Linked DNA regions of Homo sapiens: region 1 is linked to region 2. Evidence: fine-mapped expression QTL. A gene starts in region 2. The other region holds a variant in brackets. All regions are shown on one strand. Distances are from middle to middle. Region 1 overlaps UBE2L3 (ubiquitin conjugating enzyme E2 L3). Region 2 holds the start of UBE2L3 (ubiquitin conjugating enzyme E2 L3).

The links. PIP is the estimated chance that this variant, and not a neighbour inherited with it, causes the effect.
Region 1: its variant is fine-mapped to the expression of UBE2L3 in whole blood (TOPMed, PIP 0.98).

What each region holds. Positions count from the first base shown.
Region 1 is chr22:21,618,252-21,628,073 of GRCh38, forward strand. UBE2L3 (ubiquitin conjugating enzyme E2 L3) reads left to right here. Exons shown (of 4, transcript NM_003347.4): 4 at 3,264-5,783. The coding sequence ends at 3,418. Among named protein-coding and RNA genes, the nearest start is that of YDJC, 6.9 kb to the right of the region's middle. RefSeq lists enhancers at 4,961-5,494, 9,605-9,822 and a silencer at 7,133-7,401. The variant T/C (reference allele first, on the strand shown) is at 4,394.
Region 2 is chr22:21,563,004-21,572,825 of GRCh38, forward strand. UBE2L3 (ubiquitin conjugating enzyme E2 L3) reads left to right here and starts at 4,711. Exons shown (of 4, transcript NM_003347.4): 1 at 4,711-4,768. The coding sequence starts at 4,742. RefSeq lists silencers at 3,705-3,892, 4,535-4,774, 5,025-5,164 and an enhancer at 6,971-7,040.

The DNA.
Region 1 (9,822 bases), 55 kb after region 2:
CTTTTGAGAAATAGGTCTTTAAATTTTTATTTTGCCAGGTGCAGTGGCTCACGCCTGTAATCCAGCACTTTGGGAGGCGGAGGCAGGTGGATCACGAGGTCAGGAGATCGAGACCATCCTGGCTAACACGGTGAAACCCCGTCTCTACTAAAAAATTACAGAAAATTAGCCGGGCATGGTGGCAGGTGCCTGTAATCCCACTACCCGGGAGGCTGAGGCAGGAGAATGGCATGAGCCTGGGAGGCGGAGCTTGCAGTGAGCCGAGATTGTGAGCTGTGATTGTGCCACTAACTCAGCCTGGGCGACAGAGCGAGACTCCATCTCAAAAAATATATATATATATTATTTTTTTTTTGCGATAGGGTCTTGCTGTGTCACTCAGGCTGAGTATAGTGGCACAATCACAGCTCACTACAGCCTCAATATTGTGGGCTCAAGCAATCATCCCACCTCAGCCTCCCAAGGAGCTGGGACTACAGGCATGTGCCACCACAACCGGCTAATTTTATTTTTTATTTTTTGTAGAGGCCAGGTCTTGCTATGTTGCCCAGGCCAGTCTCAGACTCCTGGCCTCAAGTGATCCTTCCTCCTTGGCCTCCCAAAGTGCTGGGAATACAGGTGTGAGCCACCAACCTCTGCATTAGTTACCAAGGTGATGATAGTGAGAAGTAGAGAGCCTAAGTATTCATATCAGAGAGTGAGGTGAAAACTCCTGAGCGTGCCCCTAACGAAGTACTCAGCCTGTCCTTAGCCCAGTGAGGTTTCTAAAATGCTAATGCGGTAGTAATTCTCCTGTTACAGGGCCATTTCTAATCATGGGAAAGGAAGGGGAGCCACCTATTTGTGCTCTTAGGCGACTGTGGCTCAATTTCCAGCCCTGAAGTCAAGAACAGCCAGGAAAAGGGAGCAGTCTCACACCGAGGGTGGTGTGCACTGAAATACACTGTGGCCAGTCAGCCAAGGGTGGGCTTCGTTTATTAAATAAATAAATAAATGTTTATTAAATAAAAATATACCTCCAGGGCCTGCTGCCTCTAGAGGTACAGGTGGCTTGTACAGGGAGGTGATACCACCTACCCCTGAAGAGGCTTAGAGACTGAATTAGAGGCCACCCTGGCCTGCAGAGAGCTTTCCAGGCCCCTTGCCCCTGCTTGCTGTTCACAGTCCACCCTCCTTGCCCATCCACCCCCAACAAACGTGGAACCTGTCAGCATTGCATGCGCAATGCCCTCCTCGCCTCTGCCCCACTGCTTCACCTCTACCCACTGTGGTCACAGGAGCCCTCTCTTTCCCATTCTCACCAGGCACAGTAAAAAGCAGAGGTTAGGCAGGTGGGTTTTGGACACCAGGCCAGGAGTACTTTGTGCTGTGGCCCTCACTTAATGTGTGCTGTTGAATGATTATGCCTTTGCATATGACTCAGCCAGCATCAGCATTTTGTTTTATTTATTTACTTTTGAGACAGAGTCTCGCTCTGTTGCCCAAGCTAGAGTGCAGTGGCACGATCTCGGCTCACTGCAACTGCCGTCTCCCGGGTTCAAGCGATTCTCCTGCCTCAGCCTCCTGAGTAGCTGGGACTCTAGGCATGGGCCACCATGCCTGGCTAATTTTTGTATTTTTAGTAGAGACGGGGTTTCACCATGTTGCCCAGGCTGGTCTTGAGCTCCTGACCTCAGGTGATCTGCCTGGCTAGCATTTGCATTTTAATCCATTTCTTGTAATGCTGAATGAACAATATGAGCCCTTAATAAAGGAATTGACCAGGTGCAGTGGCTTCATGCCTGTCATCCTAGCACTTTTGGGAGGATGAGGCGGTAGGATCACTCAAGCCCAGGAGTTTGAGACCAGCCTGGGCAACATAGTGAGACCCCATCTCTACAAAAAACTAGGCCAGGAGCAGTGGCTAACACCCGTAATCCCAACTACTCTCAAGGCCAAGGTGGGAGGATTGTTTGAGCCCAGGAGATAAGACTGCAGTGAGCTGTGATTGCACCACTGTACTCTAGCCTAGGTTAAAAAAAAAAATTAGCTGGACGTGATGGCATGTGCTTGTAGTCTCAGCTACTCAGGAAGCTGAGGCAGGAGGATCATTTACACCCAGGAGTTTGAGGGTACCGTGCAGTAAAGTATGATTGAGCCACTGCACTCCAGTCTGAGTGACAGCAAGACTGTCTAAAAAAAATAAGAAGGAATTTGTGGCATCAGCAGTTCGGAGAAGAGGGGCACTGTTTTACAGTGGGAAGGAACATTCTGAGGGTGCTGGTCCTGACAGGGTCAGGGGGCAACTGTGGCAAAGTATGTGAGGAGGTGTGGGTAGCAGCTGCTTCTGATTCCCCACTATCCTTCCACCCTGGGGCACGTCTGGGCTACGGCACCTAGGGGGAGTACTGTGGCACCCATCAGAGCCATCAGCGTGACATCTGCCTGTGGTCTTGACAATGTGATGCGATGGCGGTTGTCAGCTTCCCATTGGCTGGCCCCAGTGACCCTTTCTAGAGGGTTCAGAAACTCCTAAGGGTCTTCCAGAGTTGGGTCATTGCGCATTGACAAGTGCAGCGCCATCACATACCCTTCTCTCTAGTGCCCACTCAGTCACCTTAACCGAAACTTCCCTGAGCCGAGCATGGTGCTGGGTGCTGGGCTGATGCAGGGAAGTTCTACCCGGTCCTGCCCTGAAGAAAGTGACCCTGTGTGCATGCATGAGAGTGAGCAGTCAGTTCAATACTAGGCCTCCTATCTCCAGAGTACACAAGAGGACTGGATTAGCCGGGCATGGTGGTGCACGACTGTAGTCCTGGCTACTTGGGGGACTGAGGCTGGAGGATTGCTTGAGGTCAACCCAGGAGGTTGAGGCTGCAGTGAGCCAAGATGGTGCCACTGCACTGCAGCCTAGGTGACAGAGTGAGACCCTGTCCCTCCTCCCCAACCCCCCGCCAAGAAAAAAGGGCTGGGAGTGACTGAGGGCTAAGACCTCCCCAGGTGTTAGGTCAGGAAGGCTTCCTGGAGGCGGAAGCACATCACTGTGAACAATTATCCACTGTAGTGTTAGCTATTTGTTGTCCATCAGTGTCTTCTAATCACAGAGGAAAGATGAGTTTTCTGGCAGTCAGAATTTTGGATAAATAGGAGGCAGCTTTGGCTTAAAAGCACATTAGCTGTAAATCAGTTGTAAAGCCAGAGTTTTGTTCCCGGATTAGCTGCCTCTTGCCTGTGCCATTTCTGAGACTGTGTTAACCCCCCATGCCTTGTCCTTCTCTTGGCAGTAATCCAGTCCCTCATAGCACTGGTGAATGACCCCCAGCCTGAGCACCCGCTTCGGGCTGACCTAGCTGAAGAATACTCTAAGGACCGTAAAAAATTCTGTAAGAATGCTGAAGAGTTTACAAAGAAATATGGGGAAAAGCGACCTGTGGACTAAAATCTGCCACGATTGGTTCCAGCAAGTGTGAGCAGAGACCCCGTGCAGTGCATTCAGACACCCCGCAAAGCAGGACTCTGTGGAAATTGACACGTGCCACCGCCTGGCGTTCGCTTGTGGCAGTTACTAACTTTCTACAGTTTTCTTAATCAAAAGTGGTCTAGGTAACCTGTAAAGAAAGGATTAAAAATTTAAGATGTTCTAGTTCTGCTCTCTTTGTTTTAAAAATCACTGCTTCAATCTACTTCAAAAGAATGGTGTTTCTTTTCTTGTCCAATTTTATCCAAAATCTTCAAGTTACATTTAACCCATAAGGTTTAAAAAAAAGGAAAAAAAACGGTTGTGGTTCCCTTTCTTCCCTACCCTTGCCACTCCCACTTTCTGGCACCGAGTTTATTTTTCACTTACTTACTTCCCCAGACCCCGGGCTCGCCTCCACAAAGGAGAAGAGACTGCCCTGGCGGTCCTGGTGGCTTTTCTTAGCATGTGTGGCACTGTTGCCCAGTGTGGGAGTTGGTTTAAATTCTCCTGACTCCAGTTTATAACATCCTTTTAAAAAATTTAAAAACAAACAGCCACACCCCTCCTCCAGTCCTTCTCCTCAGTTCTTGTGTGAAACTCCAGCTGATGTTACCACAGTAACATCAGTTAATTGGGCAAGCCCTGATGTCAGTGTGTGTAACTGACCTCTGGCCTGGCCTGCACAGAGAAGCCCTATAATCACAGGTCTGTGGTGGCCCCGAAATGGGGGGCCTGCTAGTCAGGAGGATGCTGTGCACACTGTGTGTGATGAATCTCGCCAGAAAGGCTCCTGAGGTCCCAGGTTGGCACTTCTCCCTGCAGCCATTGTAGAAGATCTGCTGGTCCTTGCAGGCAAAGCTACAGCCAGAATGTCCGTTTGAAACTCCTAGCTCATCTGTCACCGAGCTTCATCCGAATGTGCCACGGAGCTTGCTCTCCACTTCCTCCGTGCAG[T/C]GGCCCTGCCACAGCCCTCCCTCGGCACACTTTGACCCTTTGTAGGATTGGAATTAGCAGGACTCGGCTATTTAAAGCACCAGTCTGGGGTCGCCTGGGCCCCTGCTGACCCCCTCCTCCAGAGCAGCCAGCCCAGCCCGGGAACAAGACGGACTTCCTCTCCCTTCGGACTCACAGCCTTTGCAGAGTCAAGCTCCACTTGAAGCTCACTCAGTAATATCCTTTCAATGTGTTTTATATTGTTTTGACTGCCTTTTTTTGTAGAAATAAAAATTGACCTTAGAATTTATCGTCAGATAAACTTGTAAAGATTTGAATATTAATGTCTTTTCAAGGCAAATGGGATTGTCCCCGCACTAGTAGAGAATCCATGTCGCTCTGACACCCCAAGGAAGCCGACGATCCAAATGCCGTGTGTCACCAACCCCGCTTCTGCCACTGGCGGCTTCCCTTCTTGGCTCTTGGGGGGGACTAGATCCTGTGGAGAAGATGACTTAAACTTTGCTTTTTGTTTTAATTTTAATTCTATAACTTGAGATCTTTCCGGGGCCTACAGGCGTGTAAGACAGCTTGGTCTGGTCTGTGCAGAAGTGGGGAGTGATGGGCAGGTTCGGCAGCCTAACATTGTTCAGGCGCATGGCCCCTGCGGTGTGTACACGAACTCGGCTTCTTTTGTCCTAGGTACGCCAAGGGCAGGTTTCTGGAGACTCCCTTGTGCCCGGGATGGCAAGGGCACCGGGCTGGCGTTTCCACATCTGTCTTCATTAGCAGAAAAGTGATGATGGATTTTATTTCACTCACACTCCAGTTTGTAATAAAATGCCAAATTCTGTCAGCTATCCAAACAAGCCACCATTTGTTCTTGTTGCTTCTCTGGATCCAGAAATGTTGCCATTCTTGGAAACTGTCCCATTGCTTCGTATTTCTGCCAACGTAGCTCTGCCTGCCTGTCAACCCCTCACTGCACTCTGCTCATCACGGGAGGATACCTGTGTGCCGGCAGCCCCTCAGGGACTCTCAGCCCTGGCACTGGCACCCCAGGGTTGGCCCCGTCAGCAGAGGCTTGGCTTTCGAGCCAGTGGGTGTCTCTCCTTTGGGCCTGGGCGGCTTGCTCCTGCCAGCCATGCCTTCAGGGTAGGCTCTGAGCAAGCTGGCGAACAGCCCTGGCTGCTCCAAAACCAAAAAGCTGGGTCCTCTGGAGGAGGGGCGAGCTGTGGAGCAGCCACCCACTGCTGCCCCAAGCTCACTCAGGAATTCACACCCGCCTGGTTTCTTGAAGTGTGCTGGGTCCTTCCCTCTGCTCCCTACTCCCCACCACGGCAGAGAATAGGCTTTCTAAGATGCTGCGATCCCGTTCTGCTGCCCGTAATAAAAATGCTCTCAGACACTGGTTAGTCGTGTGGGTTTCTTCCTTCCTGGGAGCGGGCAGTGCCAGGGGCCTATGCTCTTGGAGATGGGAGGGCTGGCTGGGGCCCAGGTCCTGGGGCTTCTGATCTCTCTCCCCATTCCCAGCCTCTCCAAAAGAGGTACATAGAAGTGTTCCTGCCTCCCTAGAGGGAAGGAGATGAGGTATAATCAGCAAGAAAGCCGGAGACTTCAGACAGTCGGGGCCTGCAGAGGGCGCTCTTGGGCGTCTCGTTGAGGGGACAGGGACTAAAGTGTGGGTGCATCACTTACATGCGTGGGTCATCCTGGAGCCTCCTGGGAGTGTTAACAATCCATGTTTAGAAGAGGCAAACCTGCGGTCCCAAGAGGTCACAGAATTGATAAGGGTGTGCCTGTGGGTGGAGCTGGGCCATGTCCATGAATGGTGCCAGCCAGAAACACTCTGAGTCCCCAGTACAGCCCACTGCCAGGGTGCTGCGGCAGTGGTGCTAACTCAGCAAGGGCTCAGCCAGACCCAGGACTTTTTTGGCTAGGCCTTCCCTGCCTGGAATTTGACACCAGCTGAGACTAGGCCTGCACTGTTCAGCTGGATCTGCAGGTCTTGGGGAAGGAAACTTCTTGGGGTGTCATTTTACTAGCCTTTAACATACCTAGCACTTTACCCTCTGAGTCTCAGGAGAGCCCTGTGGCATCCTTATCCCTGCTTTTAAAGACAACCAAGACCCCTGGCCTGTTTTTGTTCACATTCTGACTGCAGAGCCTGTTGCATTCCACCATTTGGCATATTTCTTCCCACAGGGTCCCTCTGAGCCCAGAAACAGCCAGTTACCACCCTCCCCAGAGCCAGAGACCTTTAAGCCCCTCTGTCAACTTCCTCTTCCCTACAGCCACCAGCCACCATTTTTGGCCTTGTTCACTATTAATTGTTCAGCATGAAATAAGCATCCATTTCATCACTCCTGTACCCGCTGCAGCCTGACTTCTGTCACCTGCTGCCCCTTGCTGCTTCTCCTTTCATTTGGTGCCATCTAACCCAGCCCTGAAAGAAGCCAGAGCTGCTCTCAGCATTTCCCACCCTGTCCTGCCTGGCTCTTCCTTCTCTCTCTGCTTCCTGGATATGGCATGGGGGAACCGGGCACCAACCCAGAACAGAGGGGAGCTGAGGGTACCATTGCTCCCAGTGCAGTGCAGTGCCTAGCCTGGTCCATGCCTGGTAAGTGGCCATTTCCCAGATTATTGGAACGTGTTCTTGTTCATAGAGGGCCCCTAGGGAACCCTGGAGGCCTCAGAGGATCAGAGTAGAAAGGACCACCGTGCAGAGGCGATAACTGAGGCCTTGGGAAGGAAGTCACTTCCAGAGAGCATTCCCCACCCGGTGCTGGCCAGGTTCAGAAACCCCCCTGTGGCTCCACATGTTGCCGTGGGTTTCTCCTACATCTTCCTCTGTGTGTCACTGGATGACACTGGATGACTGTCCCTGTATGTACCAGACTGGGAGCTCCTTGCAGACCAGGCCATGTCAGCTCCAGCCCTGGCCTAGCACAGAGTGGACCCTCCAGACACGAATGCCGAGTGGGCGGATAACAGTGAACCGCTTGGCTAAGACACTGTTGCTGCCCCCACAGCCCCTGTGGCCCACCAGTCACCACCCCAACAGGTCCTTATCACTTTCACCTCCTCGTGAGATGGGCCTCATTATAATCAGGTGGGCCTGATTATCCTACCAGTCTATGCCCCCTCACTTCAGTTTTTTTTTTTTTTTTTTTTTTTGAGTCAGGCTCACTCTGTCACCCAGGCTAGAGTGCAGTGGCATGATCACTGCTCCCTGCAGCCTCTACCTCCCAGGCTGAGTCGATCCTCCTATCTCTGCCTCCTGAGTAGATGGAACTACAGGCTTGTGTCACTACACCCGGCTAATTTTTGTATTTTTTATAGAGACAGGGTTTTGGCATGTTACACAGTCTGGTCTCAATCTGCTAGCCTCAAGCCTTCCTCCCGACTCAGCCTCCCAAAGTGCTGGAATTACAGGCGTGAGCCACTATGCCCAGCCATTATTTTTTCTTTTTTAAATAACAGAAATAAGGTCTTAGTATGTTGTCTAGGCTGGTCTGGAACTCCAGAGCTCAAGTGATCCTCCCACTTCAGCCTCCCAAAGTGCTGGGATGATAGGTGTGAGCCACTGTGCCTGGCTTCACTTCACTCAAATGCTCATGGTCAGCCGGCTGCTGTGGCTGATGCCTGTTAATTCCAACACTTTAGGAAAGGCCAAGGTGACCAGATCTCTTGAGCCCAGCAGTTTGAGACCAGCATGGGCAACATGCCAAAACCCCATCTCTACAAAAAATACAAAAATGAACCAGGCATGCCTGTGCTCCCAGCTCCTCAGGAGGCCATGGTGGGATGATCACCTGAGCCTGGGGAGGTGGAGAACTGCAGAGACGTGATTGTGCCACTGTACTCCAGCCTGGGTGACAGGATGAAATCCTGTCTTTAAAAAGAAAAAAAAAGTCTCACGGTCCCCAGGGCTGCTGTCGACTCTGCTCATCCCTCCTTCCCTCCCTGAGTGACAGTAGCCACTCATATAGCATCTGTGCAGACCCCCAGGTCTCTCCTGCCCACCCACACCTCTCCTGAGCCTAAAGCTGCACAACCAGCTGCCTCCTCCTCTCAGAACACTTCCATAACAGAAGCCCCTCAAGGGAGCTACGTCTGTATCCCCGGCTAACTTCAGGCCACCCCTCTCCCAGCCTTAGCCAGCAGCCTGCAGGAGTGTGGCCAGATCTCAGCAGGCTGAGGCGAGGAGGTGGAGGCTAGGCAGCAGGAGGAGCAACTGTACAGTGATTCCAGCTCACAAGCATGGGTGCAAGAAAGCAGGAAAAGTGCTGCAGATGGGAGAGTCCAAGTCTAGTGAAGGTCAAGATGGAAGACGAGTGTGGAGCCAGAAAAAGGGACTGAAGCCACAGTCAAGGGGATGGGGCCATGAGTGGGTAGAAGCAGGAAGGAGGAGCGACATCCCACACTCACCCTTCAGAAAGCCACACGTCTCTCCAAGCTGCCTAGGCTGGATGAGAGCTCTCTTGGCCCCTGATTCCATGTTTGGCCCAGGCTAGGGCCCAGTGCACATTAAATAAATGAATGAGTAGTTTCAAAGCCCTGCTCTGCCACTCCTGCCTCTACCCCTGTAAAATGGGGACATCGGTGCCTGCCTCATAGATGCTATTTCATGAAATGAGACAAGGACCACATGGTATTCCATCTGCCTTTCCATCCTGCGGAGTGGTGCAGAAGGACTCTGTGCTCTAGAGGACTCGCACTGCCTTCCCCATCTGCTCCTGCACCTCAGGAGCTTTCAGCTAAGCCACATGCGGCCCCAGTCCACAGGGCATCCCTACATTGCCAGAAGTTAGGAACCATGGTATCCCATTTCCCGGGAAGACTGCTCCTCCTAGAAAAATTTAAATGTATTCCCACAGGGTTGCAGGGTCTCCTCACGCCTATCCCGTAGAATGGCTTACATCTAAACAGATGACTTTTGTTTTTGAGATGGAATTTCGCTCGTTACCCAGGCTGGAGTGCAGGGGCGCGACCTCGGCTCACCACAACCTCCGCCTCCCGGGTTCAAGCGATTCTCCTGCCTCAGCCTCTCCAGTAGCTGGGATTACAGACATGCACCACCAATGCCCAGCTAATTTTGTATTTTTAGTAGAGATGGGGTTTCTCCATGTTGGTCAGACTGGTCTCGCACTCCTGACCTCAGGTGATCTGCCCGCCTCGGCCTCCCAAAGTGCTGGGATTACAGGTGTGAGCCACCACACTCAGCCTACAGGTGACTTCTTAAATCAATACTGAGATTATAGTATTATGCCTCTTCCAAAGCAGCCTGGTGAGGACAATCTCCCACTCCCACCCTAAAAAGGAATAAAGAAAATTGCAGCATGAACAAAACCAGAATGGAGAATGGGCCATTTCCTGGAGTGGTTTGAGCCAAGAGGGAGCTGCTCTTTGTCCGTGCTTGTTTCTCTGAGGGTCTCCTGGGCACAGCT
Region 2 (9,822 bases):
GAGGCCGAAATGGGCGGATCAGGAGGTCGGAAGTTCGAGATCAGCCTGACCAACATGGTGAAACCCCGTCTCTACTAAAAATGCAAAAATTAGCTGGGCATAGAGGTGTGCACATGTAATCCCAGCTACTCGGGAGGCTGGGGCAGGAAAATCGCTCGAACCCAGGAGGCGGAGGTTGCAGTGAGCCGAGATTGCGCCACTGCACTCCAGCCTGGGCGACAGGGCAAGACTCCGTCTCAAAAAAAAAAAAAAAAAAATTTATTACTGGCCGGGTGTGGTGGCTCACGCCTATAATCCCAGCACTTTGGGAGGCCAAGTCGGGCAGATCACGAGCTCAGGAGATCGAGAGCATCCTGCCTAACACAGTGAAACCCCATCTCTACTGAAAATACCAAAAAAAAAAAAAAAATTAGCCAGGCGTGGTGGCGGGCTCCCGTAGTCCCAGCCACTCAGGAGGCTGAGGCGGGAGAATGGCGTGAACCCGGGAGGCGGAGGTTGCAGTGAGCCGAGATCGCGCCACAGCACTCCAGCCTGGGCGAAGAGCGAGACTCCGTCTCAAAAAAAAAAAATTAATACTTTTTTTTTTTTTTTGAGACGGACTCTCACTCTGTCACCCAGGTTGGAGTGCAATGGTGTGATCTCGGCTCACTGCAACCTCCCCCTCCCGGGTTCGAGCGATTCTCCCGCCTCAGCCTCCCAAGTAGCTGGGACTATAGGCACCCTCCACCACACCCAGCTAATTTTTGTATTTTTAGTAGAGACGGCATTTCACTATGTTGGCCAGGCTGGTCTCGAACTCCTGACCTTGTGATCCGCCTGCCTCAGCTTCCCAAAGTGCTGGGATTACAGGTGTGAGCCACTGCACCTGGACTATTTATTTTTGTAGATATGGTAGTCTTTCTATGTTGCCCAGGCCGGTCTTGAACTCCGGGCCTCAAGTAATTCTCCCGCTTCAGCCTCCTAAAGTGCTGGGATTATAGGTGTGAGACTGTACGCAGCCAAAAAAGTCTACTTCTTTTTCTTTTCTTTCTTTCTTTTTTTTTTTTTTTTGAGACATGGTCTCACTCTTTCACACAGGCTTGAGTGCAGTGGCACGATCACGGCTCACTGTAGTGTCACTCTCCCGGGCCCAAGTGATCCTCTCACTTCAGCCTCCCAAGTAGCTAGAATTACTTGGCCATCACACCTGGCTAATTCTTTTTTTATTTTTTGTTGAGACGGGGTCTCCCTATGTTGCCCAGGATGGTCTCAAACTCTTTGGCTCAAGCAATCCTCCTGCCTTGGCCTCCCCAAGTGCTAGGATTACAGGCATGAGTCACCACAAGGTTACTTCTGATGGGAGGCTTGGGCAGATGGCACAGAAAGGATAGGTCTGTATGAACAAGGTTTGGCTGAGTGGAGGGGATCGGGTATGACTAGAAGCCAGGCCTGCTAGAGGGAGCAATGAAGGTTTTAGAGCAGGAGAGGGACCCCAAAGGCCAGGCAGCCCTTCCACTGGGACTGGGTACATTTCCTGAGTGCTTGTTTAGTAAAAGCACTTTGTAGCTCAGCGGCTTGACTCCCCACCTGCAAAGTGCAAGGGAGTCATCTTGCAGGCAGCGGTGAGGATGTAAGAAGATGCCATGGCAAAGGCTAGTCCTTGACATTGAGCCTCTGATGATCCCACTCTGTATTCTCAGCTTAGCACATCCGGGTCAAAGGTATGAACTGTGCTTCCTCAACTGGCTTGGAATTTCTCAGCGTAAGCGTCCCCTTCCTCCGTAATTCTCCACAGAGGAAAGCAGTTCCCAATACAGCTATGTTTTTTATTTGTCCTGGGCCCAGTAAGGGCAGGTTCTGTGCTCACAGTAGACCCCAGAGTCAGTCCCAGACTTCTAAGTCCCACCATGACCCTAGAGATCTGATGGGGTCCCTCATGCATACGCTGAATGTGTATTGAACACTCAGTGTACTGGCCTTGGGGGAGGTAAAAGGCAGGCAGAATCGCTGATCACATGAGGCTTGTCATCTAGTTTCTCCCTCCTTTACCGTGTCAAGCCTGGGCTCCCAAGATGAGTGTGAGGCCAGCCTTATTCCAGGATATATATATCTATATATATATATTTTTGAGACTGAGTCTTGCTGTGTTACCCAGGCTGGAGTGCTGTGGAGCTATCTCCACTCACGGCAAGCTCCGCCTCCCGGGTTCACGCCATTCTCCTGCCTCAGCCTCCCGAGTAGCTGGGAATACAGGCGCCCGCCACCACGCCCGGCTAATTTTTTGTATTTTTAGTAGAGATGGGGTTTCACCGTGTTAGCCAGGATGGTCTCAATCTCCTGACCTCGTGATCCACCCACCTCGGCTTCCCAAAGTGCTGGGATTACAGGTGTGAACCACCACACCCGGCCCCAGGATATATTATTTCCAGTTCCCTTTCCTTCTCTCCTTTCAGGAGAAACCCACTGTTCTTAGAAATGGAGAAAAATGTCCAGGCCCAGTGACTCACACCTATAATCCCAGCACTTTGGGAGGCCAAGGTGGGTGGATCACTTGAGGTCAGGAGTTCAAGACCATCCTGGCCAAAAATGCTAAAACCCTGTCTCTACTAAAAATACAAAAATTAGCTGGGCATGGTGGCAGGTGCCTGTAATCTATGCTACTCAGGAGGCTGAGGCAGGAGAATCACTTGAACCCGGGAGGCAGAGGTTACAGTGAGCTGAGATCATGCCATTTTGCACTCCACCCTGGGTGACAGAGTGAAACTGTGTCTCAAAAAAAAAAAAAAAAAAAAAAAAAAAAAAGAGAAAAACTCCTTAAGAAGGTCTGAGTATATTCTGAAGCTATGTTCTTCTCTCTGCATTGCTACCTGAGGTCCAAACCACTGTCACCTCTTTGCCTGAATGATTGCAACCGGTTTCCAAGTGGCCCCTGCTCCCCTTCTTATCCTCTTACCCACCTCCATTCCCCATTTTCCAATCAGAGTACTCCTTTTTTTTTTTTTTTTTTTAAGATGGAGTCTCACTCTGTCGCCCAGGCTGGAGTGCAGTGGCGCGGACTTGGCTCACTGCAACCTCTGCCTCCCAGGTTCAAGCGATTCTCCTGCCTCAGCATCCAGAGTAGCTGGGATTACGTTCGCCCACCACCACACCTGGCTAATTTTTGTATTTTTAGTAGAGACGGAGTTTCACCATGTTGGTCAGGGTGGTCTCAAACTCCTGACCTCAAGTGATCCACCCCCCTCAGCCTCCCAAAGTGCTGGGATTACAGGCATCAGCCACTGTGCCAAGCCCCAAAGTACTCTTTAAAACATGCGTCTCAGCCCAGGTGTGGTGGCTCATGCCTGTAATCCCACCACTTTGGGAGGTTGCGGCGGGAGGACTGCTTGAGCTCAGGAGTTTGAGACCAGCCTGGGCAAGACAGTGAGACTTCATTTCTACAAAAAATAAAAAAAAACTTAGGAGGGTGTGGTGGAACGTGCCTGTAGTCCCAGTTAATTGGGAGGCGAAGCAGGAGGATCCCTTGAGCCTAGGAGGTCGAGGCGGCAGTGAGCTGTTATCGTGCCACTGTACTCCAGCCTGGGTGACAGATCAAGACTCTGTCTCAAAAAAAAAAAAAATCATCTGACCATGGAGTCAATACTCATATCTATCAAAGACCTCTCACAGCACATGGAATAGAAACCAACTCCTCCCCTTTCTACAAGACCCTCCATGGTCTGTCCCCTGCCTCCCTCCCACCCTATAATCCTTTTACTCCATTCTGGACACTGAGACAGCCTCATGGTCTTCGCCAGTGCTGCTTCCTCTGCTTGAAACATTCTCCTCCAGTCCTCCCAGCTGTTCCTTCCCATTTTCCAGGTCCCAGCATTGGCTTTGGAGCCAGCAGCCCACCTGTGACAGGAGCCTGGCTCTGCTCCTAGCTGGCCGTGTGACCTTGGGCAAGTCACTGGCTTCTTCTGTGCTTCTGTTTATTGTGAAATGAGGATGTTAATGCTAACGTATCCCAGAGGATGGTTTCAAGGGTTAAAGAAAATAAAGCACTAGAGAGAGGTCTGGCACTTAGTAGGGCCATTTCCTCAATTTGGCTTCCTTGACCTCTCAAAGTATGTCCCCACAGTCACTTTCCTATCACCCAGTTTTCTTCACAGAGCTTGGCAGTGTGAAGTAACCTTGGTTATTCAACTTTTTTTTTTTCCCCCAAGACGGAGTCTTCCTCTGTCACCCAGGCTGGAGTGTAGTGGCAAGATCTCGGCTCACTGCAACCTCTGCCTCCCGGGTTCAAGCGATTCTCCTGCCTCAGCCTCCTGAGTAGCAGAGATTACAGGCGCCCGCCACCACGCCTGGCTAATTTTTTGTATTTTTAGTAGAGACCGAGTTTCACCACGTTGGCCAGGCTGGTCTCGAACTCGTGACCGCGTGATCCACCCGCCTCGGTCTCCCAAAGTGCTGGGATTACAGGCGTGAGCCCCCGCGCCTGGTCAACTATTTTATGCAATCAGTATTTATTATGCTCCTACTATGTGCCAGGCACTGGTTGTAACTGCCATCTGATTGGACGATCCGTAAACGCTGAGGCCCAGTCTGTGCGGTTCACTTGCGTTCCTCCACGCGCCCCCCAGCACAGTGGGAAGCACACAGTAGGTGCTCCGCTCTGCTCCTGTGCCCCGCCCCGCGGCCCCTCCCCCGCTCCAGGAAGTGCGGGGGCTCCAGCCGCCCGGCCGGCCGCGATGCATTCTGGGGAAGGAGCAGCACCAAATCCAAGATGGCGGCCAGCAGGAGGCTGATGAAGGTAAAAGCCATTCTCTGGCAGCGGCCGGGCGTGGGGCGGCGTCCTAGGCTCCGGATCCCCGAGGCAGGCGGCGGCTTCTCAGGGCGCTGCCGTCTGGCTTCCTGCCCTACACGGCCTCGTCGGTTCCCTGGGCCGCGCGCAGGCTCAAGGTGCTAACGGGGCTGGCCTAGGCCGCAGCCTGGGCGGGAGCGCAAGGCCGCGCTGGGAGCCGCTGTCGGCCCCTCAGCCCGGCCCGGGGCGTTCACGCCACTCTCCGCCCGGAGCTTGGCCGCGTCCCCCTGTCGCGGAGGCCGCGGTCCGATCTGAGGGCGTCGTTAATGTGAGAGCCCGGTTGGGAGGCTCCAAACCGGGCGCCTTCGGGGAAGGCCCGAGCGCCGGAGCCCCTGCCCGGAGCCCGCGCCGCGGAACCGCCCCGCCCTGGGCCGCAGCGCGCCGGGCTTGCAGCTCCGCTTGGCCCGGCCGCAGCTCGGGAGTCTGGGAGGTTCGGGCTAGGAAAGAGAGAAGGAGGCCAGGCGGCCAAAGTTAGGTCAGTTTGTTGGTGGGTCGTTTGGAATTGCGCTGGGTCCTAGCAAACTGTCGCCTTGTGACTGCAGAGTCACACAGCGGGTAAGTTCCAACTCCAGGAAGGCCTGAGGTCGGCCCCGATCGCGGCGCGGTTCTGCTTCCCTCTCCTCCACTCAGTCATCCCGATCTCCCCTCCCTGATAAAGTGCCATTTTTGGGGGGATAACGGTTGATTTCAGTCGTTCGAATCAAAACGGGCCAAAGTTTATAATAATAATTTGGTACTTTGGATCTTGAATGCAGCAGGGTGCTTTCTCGCTAATTGGCACCTTTTGGTGAGGAACACATGCTAAATTGGCTTAGTACTTTTGCCAGTGGATTTGCCAAGGTCCTCTGTAGCCCACCCCGCCAGCATCTGTGAGTCGGCGGCTGGGTAGTGCTGCCGGCCTGCAACGGGCCGGAAATTAAAAAAAGGCCCAGGAGCCAGTTTCCTGAGGGGAGATAAAGAGCTGGGGTTCGTTCTAGGCGGAGCAGTGCTTGGTAGAGCTAGACATTGAACTTGGAGCCACAGTCTCTGAGCATTCCCTCCGTCCCTGGGAACGTTTCCTTTCTTTTGTTCCCTAAGGGCTAGAGAGGACATTAACTTTATAAAACTGGAGTGGAAGTGGGCACAAAAGAACAGTCAGAGGACTTCAGACCTCTCCTCATCTCTTAAGCTAGTGACACCACCATTCACCAGATAAGGGGTCGGTTAATGGCTTTCTTTCCTACCCTACTCCCAGGTGCAGTCGTCCATTAACCCTTGTGGATTTAAATTTAGAAAGATTTCTGGAGTGCAGGCCGGGCGCGATGGCTCACGCCTGTAATCCCAGCACTCCTGGGAGGCCGAGGCGGGCGGATCACTTGAGGTCAGGAGTTCAAGACCAGCCTGGCCAACATGGTGAAACCCTGTCTCTACTAAAAATATAAAAATTAGCTGGGCGTGGTTGCATTTGCCTGTAATCTCAGCTACCCGGGAGGCTGAGGTGGAAGAGTCGCTTGAACCCGGCAGGTGGAGGTTGCAGTGAGCCAAGTTTGCACCACTGCACTCCAGCCAGGGCGACAGAGTGAGACTCCATGTCAAAAAAAAAAAAAAAAAAAAGATTTCTGGAGTGCATGCCTTGCTTTCTAATGTTACTGAAATTACTCTGAATCTATATCCTCATCTCTCAGGTGCCCTCCCAAGTGCTCTCCTCCCCAGACTACCCCTGACGGACACCAGAGTTCTTTTAAAGCAGATAACTCAATTCTTTCACTCCTGTTAAAAACCTCTATGGTGTTATTGTCCTCAGCAGTTAATCCTAACCTCTTACTTGGCATGCAGGACCTTTCTGAGACTGGCTGAAAGCAATCCCTTGAGCCTCACCTCCTGCCCTTTGGTTTCCCACAGTTCTTGCACCTAATCACAGTAGCTACTATTTTTCCAGCTTTTACTTCGTGCTTTATATGCATGATCATGTTTAATCCTTCCTGTGAAGTAGACATTGTGATTTCCATTTTGTCGATGAGAAAAGATTCTTTGGCTTGCCCAGGGTTACCTAGCTAGGGAGAGTGAGTTGTGATCGAATTCGGTTCTTTCTCCAAAGCAAAGTCTCCTGCTCTTACTTGCTGTCTGATGTCCCTTTGCACGTGTTGTTTGCTCTACCCAAGAAAAGCTGCCTTCTCCTCACTTCTCCCTTCCAGAGAAGTCCCAGGTTCAACTCCAGTGCCAACTACTCTGTGAGCCCGTGCTCCCACATCCCCCTTCAGAATGTGTTGTTTCCTCCTTTGTGTGACCACAGCGCTTTCTTTATATTTCTCTTTGAGCACTTGTCACAATCTCTTTGTGTTACAGACTTGTCTTTCCTGTACTGGGTTCTGAGATCCCGAAGGGCAGGGATCTTGACCTAATTCATCCTGGTAGCCCCCTAGCCTATCCCAGTTGACCCAGTTTGGAATCTCCAGGCTCTCAGGGGTCTAAGAGGGGACTTATTATGGTTTTAAAATTATTACTCTGTTTCTAAAAAAAAACAGACCTTGGAAAAAAATTGTAACATTAACTGAGTATTTATTAAGTATTAGGTTATTTACGTAAGTCATCTTTTCAACACTCAAAGTTAGTGTATTGTCATTTGTATTTTTTATAAATGAGGACATTGTGAGGTTAAGTAGGTTAAGGGAGTTACCTAAGGTAGAATTGTGGAACGTGGTGGGGAGAGAGAAGACGCTGACTCTTCCTGGCTCCAGGATCCAAATTCCATGCCTCTTGTCAGGCTGTCTTTCTTACTCAAAGGCTGCATGGAGCGGTGTGTTGTTTCTTAAGTTGAGGATGGAAAGGCTTTCAGTTCACTAGGGGAACACCAGTTATGTAATGCTGATCATTGGCTGTGAGAATCAATGTTTAAGACTGTTTTTTTTTTCTTTTAAAGGAAGAAAAATTATTGATACAAGTTGATAAACAGTCTTTTCAGTACATAGGGTGGTAATAAAGTGATTTTCGTTGGTGAAAAGTTGGGGCTTAGTGCATGGAACAGTGCCTTAGGCATAGCAATCTAGCAAATGTTGAATGATCAAATTAATTACATCTTAAAGAACTTTAGATTTCTGTTAAAAATGTTTTCTAGGACATTCCACAGCAAAGATTTCTTTGTAACAATGGACTGTCTGCAGATAGTGTAAAACACATTATTAAAAGTAGAGTGATTTACATATACTACACTGAGAAGTTATTTTAGGCAAAGTGAGTATGATAAAGTCTTTTATTTCAAAAGCACTTGCCAGGAGGCTTAACCTCTTTTAGAAGCCTTTTTAGGAATTACAGTGTTAATAAAACATTAAGTACATTTTAATTTGCAAGCAGCTAATTTAGCATTGTTGGCTACAACCAGATTGTAACCATTGCTTCAATCAGGATGGGGAAATTGCTGCAAAAGCCAAAAGTGAAACCTTTATGTGTGGCTTAGGCAACTGATTGCCATCTGATCATTTCTTTGCAGCTTCACACTGCACACATTTCCCCTAAGGGCCCTCCTGTTGAGTAGCTTCCCAGAAGGGCTTTTCTCAGAGGGGAAATCTGTGGATTTAGAGGGGTGTGTGTGTAATGTCTTATTACTTATCATGACATAACTGTTGAGTTAAGGAGTTTCACTCTTGTTGCCCAGGCTTCAGCGCGATGGCACGATCTCTGTGCACTACAACCTCTGCCTCCCAGGTTCAAGCGATTCTCCTGCCTCAGCCTCCCAAGTAGCTGATACTATAGGTGTGCACCACCACTCCCTGCTAATTTTGTATTAGAAAGGAGGTTTCACCATGTTTGCCATGCTGGTCTCTAACTCCTAACCTCAGGTGATCTGCCCGCCGAGGCCTCCCGAAGTGCTGGGATTACAGGTGTGAGCCACTGCGCCCAGCCTAATGCTATTTAAAAATGTTCACTCAGAACTTCATATTGTTATATTTTCTCCCAGTTCATAGTCATAGTAGGAGGAACCTCTAAAAGTTCATTCCTTGGGTTTCGTTGTATTAAGCAGTGAGGTAGTTTGCTTTTGAGTATAGGTTTAGATTCTGAGGTTGGGTGATTAAGGAGATAGAGCAATGAGTATGTCACATGTTTCAGGAGGTGAGGGGAGTTTTATATGTGATGTTATGCCAGTGTAAATGTCCTGAATCCACTGAGGCTTTGTGAATTGAGAAAAACGTTGCGTCTTTTTTTCTAAATTCATGCATTCCAGTAAGTTGGGACTGTTTCAGCCTCCCTTAATGGTATTCTTTGTAAATGTTTGGGACAGGTGATGGGAAGGAGTATACTCAATTATTGCAACATTTGGGACCTTTTAAGGTATTTACTAGAAAACTCTGAGGCAGGCCAGGCGTGGTGACTCACACCTGTAATCCCAGCTCTTTGGGAGGCCGAGGTGGGCGGATCATGAGGTCAGGAGTTCGAGACCAGCCTGGCCAACATAGTGAAACCCCCGTCTCTACTAAAAATCCAAAAAATTAGCTGGGCGTGGTGGTGGGTGCCTGTAATCCCAGCTACTCGGGAGGCTGAGGCAGGAGAATTGCTTGAACCCGGGAGGCAGAGGTTGCGGTGAGCCAAGATTGTGTCATTGCATTCCAGTGCGAGACTCCGTCTCAAAAAAAAAAAAAAAAAAAGAAAACCCTGAGACAAAAACTCTTGTCTCAGGGTACTGGGGCCTTTTCTGATCTTGTTAAAACTCTAAATTAGGAGACTGTTGCTTTAAAATTTTATTATAAGAGGACACTTGAAAGTATTCTCATTTTATTGGAACATTTATTACGTTTAAGATATTTCTATATTCTTTGCTACAGCAGTAAATGTGAGAGCCACATTTCTTTGCAGCTTCACACTGCACACACACTGCACACACTGTGCACATTAGAGAGCCACAGAGACGTTCCTCCTGAGCCAGACTCCAACCACTTCCAGAGTTTTCTTGGGAACGGCACATAGATCTGTAGGCATCTGAGTCTTAGCTCCTCCTGTGACTCTCTCCCTCTGGCCCCATGCATCTCCTC